Linked DNA regions of Homo sapiens: region 2 is linked to region 1. Evidence: fine-mapped expression QTL. A gene starts in region 1. The other region holds a variant in brackets. All regions are shown on one strand. Distances are from middle to middle. Region 1 holds the start of NUP35 (nucleoporin 35). Region 2 overlaps DUSP19 (dual specificity phosphatase 19).

The links. PIP is the estimated chance that this variant, and not a neighbour inherited with it, causes the effect.
Region 2: its variant is the best candidate, but not a certain one, in a credible set for the expression of NUP35 in iPS cells (HipSci, PIP 0.55).

Annotation. Positions count from the first base shown.
Region 1 is chr2:183,122,232-183,126,510 of GRCh38, reverse strand. NUP35 (nucleoporin 35) reads right to left here and starts at 2,068. Exons shown (of 9, transcript NM_138285.5): 1 at 2,014-2,068. The coding sequence starts at 2,053. It overlaps LOC124907917 (a long non-coding RNA gene), which reads left to right and starts at 1,554. Exons shown (of 2, transcript XR_007087331.1): 1 at 1,554-1,718; 2 at 1,804-2,594. RefSeq lists an enhancer at 1,250-2,018.
Region 2 is chr2:183,084,969-183,089,247 of GRCh38, reverse strand. It overlaps DUSP19 (dual specificity phosphatase 19), which reads right to left. Exons shown (of 4, transcript NM_080876.4): 3 at 2,056-2,208. Among named protein-coding and RNA genes, the nearest start is that of DUSP19, 8.4 kb to the right of the region's middle. The variant C/TTC (reference allele first, on the strand shown) is at 2,597.

The sequences.
Region 1 (4,279 bases):
AAAATCAAACCAAAAGTCTAAACAAAAGCATATTCTTAACAGATATTCAGAATACCATATTAAACGCAAAGTTTTTGGTAACATTCACTACATTCACTCCCCCTCCCTAAAAGAAAAAAAAATTATAGCAAAATAAAGTAAGAATTGGCTTAAGAAAAGTTCTGATGTATCTGGATACATACAGACACAGTAGAAGGCGCAAGCCTCTAATCCCAGGATTTTGGGAGGCCGAGGCAGGTGGATCGCTCGAGCTCAGTTCGAGACCAGTCTGGACAAAATGGCGAAACCTTGTCTCTACCAAAAATACAATAAGTAGCTGGGAGTGGCGGCACACTGTGGTCCCAGCCCCTGGGAGGCTGAGGTGGGAGGATTGCTTGAGCCCGGAGGGGGAGGTTGCAGTGAGCTGAGACTGCACGACTGCACTCCAGCCCAGGTGACACGGCTGTGTCAAAAAAGAGGAAGGGAGGGAGGGAGAGAGGGAAGAAGGAAGGAAAAGAAAAAAGAAAGCACCAGACAGGAAGGAGGGCACAATGGGCTCTTAATCAGGACTGTCACCAACCACCCCTCAGGCTAAATTTCACTTAAAGCAAACTTAAGGAAAAGATGCTGCATGTCCTCAATTCCATTTCATATTCTGTGCTCCCAAAAGATACGTACTCAGCTAGCAGTTTGTTGAAGTCAACCCTTAGTTTTACTACACCAGTGGGCACCTGGAATATCTGCAAAATGTGGACTTAAACATTAATACTGGCTAATGTCAGATTTCTGGCAAGGCAATATACAGGGATTGGTTTACTCACATTTGTAACCCCAATAAATATGCACTCCAAAATGTTTTTGTTGAATAGAAAAATTTGGAACTGGAAATGAAGAGTTTTTGATCTCTAAAATACATTAAAAATAAATACCAAGACGACATCTATATATAAATTTTAATGCAGAGTATCTGCATTATTGACATTATGCATTTAGTTTTTTTATGACAGACTAAAGTAGTTCAAGTTACTCTATTCTCAAAAAGAACTTATTTTACACCAAACATGGCAAGCATTACATACCCTTCAAATCTAAAGACTCTTTCCACACCATATATATTACATTTGCTCTCTTTTCCAAGCTCAGAAAGTTATAACCTAACTTTTCAGGTAAGTCTCTATGACAGTAAGACGGTTTATTTTCCGTTCTAAAATTTTCGACGATTCTCACAAGTCGCAAAACTCAGCAGGAAAAAAAGAAATCCGCGTGCTGTTAAAGTGGTAGATTTTTTTCAAAGACGACATATTTCAACGAGGCTCCGCAATGAATAATGGGAATGAATCTTTAAAAAAATTCAGATCGTGACTTACTAGAGAAAAATACCTCCTACAATACTTAAGAGTCACTTTCCCCAAATAAAGGCGGGAAATATCGTGCGAACTCCTAGCTTGCTGTTAAGGTCAATATCTCAATGATTACCAACCACACGGTTGATTAAATGTTGCACGATTCAAGCTTCCATTAATAACAAGATTCCTTTGGCAAAGCCCGGGAGAGAGGAGTCAAAACAGGAACTGGAAGCACCGGTGATCAAGAAGCAGTGGACTGCACCCACACACTTCAGGGCACCGCCCACCCACGTGTACCGCGGTCAGTTCCTCCCAGGGATGCTTCTGGGGACCAGCAACCAGCTGGGAATCCAGCAACCAGCATCGCGTCTCGGGTATCAGAAGGAGGTTAAGGTATGGGCCAGTCTAACGTGGCTGGCGTGTGGGGGCACAAACACAGCTCAGTCACCGCCAGACGGCCTTTTCTTCACCCTCCCAGGGCCCTCAGCTTCCCGGCGCCACCTTTGTAGCAGTATGGAGGCGACGCGTCGAGTAGGGGACCGACTATGAACTTGGGGGCACCCAAGGATTCCCTCTCCGCGACTGAAACCAGCAGACGAGAGCCTGACGACTGCCTTTCAGTCTTGCCCGCCTCCAGGCCCAGAGCATGGATGGCAGTGCCAGCAAGGAAAAGCAATATTTCACTCACCTAACGCGGGCCCCTGAGGTTCCACTGCAAAGGCTGCCATTGCGTCGGCAACTACACTTAAAACCAGTACCTTCCCAATTAATTTTCAAAAATGGCGGAAACGCTCCCCACGGGTAACGGCGTGCTACCTTATGGGGTTGCGTAACTTCCGGACCTGCGCTATGCTTAAGTTGTAGGCGCCGGAGCCATTTTGGAATAGGGCAAAGTCTTTGCGCTGAGAATTTCCGAGGAAAGGGTTTTTGCACCGGGAAGGTGGCGAACCAGCGTATGGTTCTGTGAATGCTTTTCATCCGGGAATGCTTCCTGATTTGTGGGTACTTAAGTTACATAGAAGCACAGATTATTTTACTCACGGTTTCATAATTAGCGTGAGTTGACCCAGTGCTCTATCATCGGTCAGCTTTTCTGAGTAGCACCTGGAAAAGTCAGCTTGATGAAAACAGTTGGTGCCTCTTTGCAATGTCGATTTCTGGACTTAGTACATGACGCTTTTTCCTCAAAGCATGTTTTCTACTATCCGTATGCCATTTCTTTTAAATTTTGTGTTATGTAGACAATTTTACATTAAAGCGTAACTCATACGCCGTTTTGTTGCATATTAAAACATACAAAAATATAGCTAACGAACGCATAAAGTACACATGTAAATAATGGAAGATAATTATACGCACCCACGAACCCTCCACACCGCGGAATCTTGCGTGCTTCTGCATGTGCCATCCCTGCCGTCCACGTCCCCTCACTTTGCTGCTTTTCTTTAGGGCATAGTCATACGTAAATCACATACACATATTCTGCATATGTGTGTGTAAAAATATATTGTTTAGTTTTGCTCAAATACTAACTTTATAAAATAATGTGCTACATATGTATAACTGGGGACGTTCTCTGCTCCATACCATGAGGATTATTTCCAAAATATCCACCCATGCTCAGCTATTTCTTCTAGGACTTCCTAAAATCTCAAATGGAGGAAGAATTTTGTCTTTGGAATGAGGCAGTAACAATTCCAGAATTAAATGGTAGGTTCACAGAAATCAAATTTTAAAACCACTCACAGATCGAATTGACTTTTTGAAAATGGGTGTGTGAATTGAATTGTGTCCCTCAAAAATTTATGTTCAAGTCCTAACCCTCATACTTATGAATATGACCTTATTTGGAAATCGGGTCTTTGCAGATGTAATAAAGTTCAGATAAAGTCACATTGGAGTACCACAAGCTCGGTTAACTAAACCAGCACAAATGTATCTCTTACAGTTCTGGAGGCCAAAAATCCAAAATGAGTATTGTAGGGCTAAAATCAAAGTACCAGAAGGACTATTTTCTTCTGGAGGCTCCAGGGGAGAATCTATTACCTTGCTTTTTCAAGCTTCTAGAAGCCACTTATATTTCTTAGCTTGTGCCACCTTCCTGCTTTTTCAAAGCCAACGATGTAGCATCTTTGGTCTGTCTGACACTGCTTTGTTCAGCTTCTGCCATCACATAGCCTTGTGATGACATTTAGGACCCACCCAGGTAATCCAGGATAATCTTACTATTTCAATATTCAGTAGAGGTGATTAAGTTAATAATCACATCTTCAAAATACCTTTTGCCATATAAGGTAACATTCACAGATTCTAAAGCTTAGTGTATGGATATCTTTGGGGAGTAGTCAGCCCACAACACAGGGCAATCCACTTTTTAGAATTAAGCTACCAAGAAAGGTATATCAATGTATAAATTTCTACACACATTGAGGCTAGATGTGGTGGCTCACACCTGCAATCCCAGCACCTTGGGAGGCTGAGGGGTTGATCACTTGAGTCCAGGAGTTTGAGATAGTGAGACCCCACTTCTCTACAAAATAAAAAAGAAATTTCTATACAAATTATGATCTAGCCAAACAAAAGAACACTATACAACAACTAAAATGAATTAGATGGATTTGATATGAGTGTAAATATTAACCTAGAAAGACCTCTGTGATAGATATAATGAAAAAAAGTAATTTGAAAACATGCATGCATATACGGCACCATTTTTATTTAATAACGGGTTTATTTAGGAACAGATGCAGAGAAAGAGAAAAGAGTGATACTTCTTTAAATAAAAGAAGATGTTGAAAAAGATTTGCACCAGCCGGGCATGGTGGCTCATGCCTGTAATCCCAGCACTTTGGGAGGCCAAGGCGGGCGGATCACGAGGTCAGGAGTTCCAGACCAGCCTGGCCAACATGGTGAAACCCCATCTCTACTAAAAAATACAAAAATTATCCGGGCAT
Region 2 (4,279 bases), 37 kb after region 1:
ATGAGCCCAGCAGGGTAAACGCATCACTTTGTATTGCTTCTCGTCCCACCTTGAATCACTTTCCTTTCTTGCCACTCTCACTGCCTAGAGATTGTACCTCTCAAATTAAGCATAAGCTCTAAATCCTCATCTCAGGCTTTATTTTTAGGAAACCCAAGCTAAAATCCACTCTAATTTACTGGCCCAAATTAAGGCAAACTTTATTTTTTAAATTTATTTAAAATTCCAAGCTTATTAGAATATTCAATCTCTTGCTTTTCTTTCTAGATATGATTAACCTCTCTAATTTTTACTTGCAACATTTACATCTCTTCTAATGTTAATATGAATATGGATGATATCTATACTTTGCCATCTCTGGCATATTCTACATCTCCTTAGAGAAGGAGCCAATACAGAAACATCCTTTTTATTTTTAAAACTATTAACTCACACACTGGAATGTTACAATCCAGAGCCTGTAAATTTTTTAACAAGAAAACAGAATGGCCAATATTAGGCTTTGAATTAAAAAACCTCTCCCTTGGCCAGGTGCAGTGGCTCATGCCTGTAATCCTAGCACTTTGGGAGGCTGAGGCAGGTGGTCTGCCTGAGCTCAGGAGTTCAAGACCAGCCTGGGCAACACGGTGAAACCCTGTCTCTACTAAAATACAAAAAATTACCCGGGTGTGGCAGTGTGCTCCTATAGTCCCAACTACCTGGGAGGCTGAGGCAGGAGAATCACTTGAACCCGAGAGGCGGAGGTTGCAGTGAGCCGGAGGTTACAGTGCACCGAGATCACACTACTGCACTCCAGCCTGGCGACAGAGTGAGACTGCATCTCAAAAAAAAAAAAAACAAAAAAAAAAAACACAAAAAACAAAAAACAAAAAAAACCTCTTCCTTTGCTTCCATCCAAATACAGTCGTGCATCATTTAACAATGGTGATGCATTCTGAGAAATGTGTTGTTAGGCAGTTTCTTCGTGGTGTAAACATCACAGAGTGCACTCACACAAACCTAGAATGGTATGGCCTATTGCTCCAAGACTACAAACCTGTTCAGATGTTACTGTACTGACTTGTAGGCAACAGTAACACAATGGTATGTATTTGTGTATCTAAACATACATAAACATAGAAAAGGTATGGTAAAAATACATTATTATAATCTTATGGAACCACCATCATATATGCAGTCCAAACATCATTATGCAGTGCATGACTGTATCTGCTATTAAGTAAAGTTGATGAACAGTAGAATTGAATAGTTTTATATTTTCTGGGTAGTCTAGTAGGAAGGCACGTAGAACAGTGCTGGGCACCTAAGGCATTCAATAAATATTACTAAATGAAAGGAAAGAAGGGAGAGAGGAAGAGAAAATGGGAAGGAGAAAAGATAAAGGGAGAGAAGGTAGGCCAGAGTTCAATTAAACCTGATTGTAATCCTGTCATTGTTAGGTGTTCCAGAAGAGTTATTTCTCTCTGTAAATGCTTCTACTTTCCCATCTACGTATCTTACATAAAGTCTGTAAGAATTATTTGCTGACTAAAAATGATGACATTTCAAGGAATAATTGTTGATAACAGCCAACCTAGAAACTTTGCCTGTCAGAATGTTGACTTCAATAACAAGCCTGAAGTACTATATGACATTGGCTATTGGTCTTCTAACTTCAGAAAACCAACAGACAGTTTCTGATCAGCATTTTCATACAATCTAAGTAAAGCAATACACATTTAGTCCTTAGAGTGCCTTAAAATTTTACTGCTAAAAATGCATAGTTTCACAATAACTATCTCATTCATTAAAATCAAATGCATATTAATCATCATAAATACACTAACAAGTCTAGAGCAGTCTCTGTTTTATAGTCTGAATTAATGTTGAAACTAAACATCTCATTGAAAAAAGAGCAATTAACCAAATAATTGTAGGAAATAATGAAATATTGTTAGAAGGGAAATTTCATAATTGTTTTTTAGAGATTCATTATAAAAATAATAAAGATTGGGTAATGGATCCACACTTTCAAATTTCTGCTTCTGCAGAACTATGGATCAAAACAAAACTCACTTTTCTTTTTGCTTCTTCAATAAATTCAAAACATTCTGGAAAATAAGACAGGATGTTGGTTTCAGGCAGATCCAATATAGAAATGCTCTTATATGTAAAGTCACTGAGGAAAGCATTTTCAACTCCATATGCAACATTAAGAATATGAGTCACCTTAAAGAGAAAGAAAAAAGATGATTGTTTTAAATCCCATGAATTAGGTTACCTAAAAAGAGACTGGGGTGTTGATATCTATAACAAGAAAGGTAAAAAATTTAAATGCGACTCACTTGAATGATAATACTGCTTCAATCCCACACCAGAAGTGCTCCTTCTACTATATGTTTTCTCTCTCTCTCTCTCTCTTTTAACTTATTATTATCATCATGCAGAGACAGGGTCTCTTTCTGTCACCCAGGCTGGAGTGCAATGATGCAATCATAGGCCACTGCAATCTTGAACTCCTAGGCTCAGGTGATCCTCCTGCCTCAGCCTCCCAAGTAGCTGGGACTACAGGCGTGTACCACCACACCCAGCTAATTTTTTTTTTTTTTTTTTTTTT[C/TTC]AGAGAAGAGGGGGGCGGGTCTCACTTTTTTTGCCCAGGCTGGTCTCGAACTCCTGGCCTCAAGTGATGCTCCCACTTCCGCCTCCCACAGTGCTGGCATTACAGGTATAAGCCACCACACCTGGCCTATATATTTTCATAGCCCTGGACTTGCCCTATTATAGCTCATGCCATTTAGAGATTGTTTTTCTCTTTCACTGCACTAGAAACTCCATGAGGGTAGGGACCATGTTTAACTTAGTGTTATAAGCGAATGAGCAGTGAGTTTAGCAGAAAATGCTTAAAATCTTTGTTGAATTAATCTGTGAATATCCATATAAAAACTTAAATAGGAGAAGTGTATCAGTGGTATACAACTTCCCTTTCAAGAATTATTTCCCTATTTTCCTTCATATTCTTTACTTTATAAAATGGTTCTCCAGGATGACTGCACATTAGAGTCACCTGATGAACTCTTAAAAACTATCAATAACACAGGGTCTCATACCCAGAGATTCTGATGAACCAATCTGGCTGAAAAGTAAGGGGAGGTGTGGTTGTAAAATATTTTCTTTCAGATGGTACACTTGAGCAACCTCCTCCTCTTGCATCTATGTATTTGAGCCCCTTTTCCTAGAGTCCACCAACCATGTGGAAGAAAGCCAGGCAGACAGTCCATTAAGATAATCCAAAGGCTGAGAATCACTTGAACCCAGGAGGTAAAGGTTGCAGTGAGCCACGATCATGCCACTGCACTCCAGCCTGAGCAAATGAGCGAGACTCTGCCTCAAAAAAAAAAAAAAAAAAAAAAAAAAAAAAAAAAAACCTAACAACCTTGTCCACATCTGTACTTCCCCTCTGCCTTCTGATTACAATGAAGGATGTGCTCGTGCATCTTCGATAAGGCTCATTCCAGAACCTGTGCTTGGAGTCACAGTGCTTCCTACTTTCTTGGCATCTCCCTATAGTCATAATTCTTGCTTTTCTGTATCTTCAATTCCTTCTTCTACCATCAGCCTTAAAACATGCTCAAAGCTCTCCCCTCCCCCTCCTCACCTATGGCTCCTCTCTCTCTTTTTTTTTTTCCCTTTGCCATCACTTCCTCACTTCTCAATCTTTTGCAATATGGCTTTGGCCTCCAATTCAAATGAAACTGTTTCCACCAAACGCACTAACAACCTCTCTGTCACCAAGTCCCATGGATATAATTTAGTCCTAATCGTACTTAAACTTTTACAGCATCTGACATTGCTGACTCTCTCCTCCTTAAAACACTATTCTCTTTAGTTTCCATGACACCATCTTTTTGTTTTACCTTCTTTGGGCCTCTTTTAGATCCTCCTTTCCCACTGCGGACTCTTCTTTGTTTGATCATTCCATATAGGGTGATATTCCTCAATTTATCAGTTCTGTGATAAGATTCTGTCATAGGCCCTCTTCTCTCTTACTTTACACTTTTCCCCAGGCAGCTTCATCTATTCTAATGGTTTCAGTAACTACTTAAAAGCTGAAGATTCCTAAATCTATATATTCACCTCTATTCTGAACTTCAGACCCTACATATCCACCCACCTAGATGATCCACATCACCCAAAACCTAACATGTTCAGAACTGAGCACACTGTTTCTCCTTCAAAGCCTGTTCCTTCTACGTTGCTTTCAATCTCATGGAACGATAACTTTACTTAGTTACCAAAGAAAGCT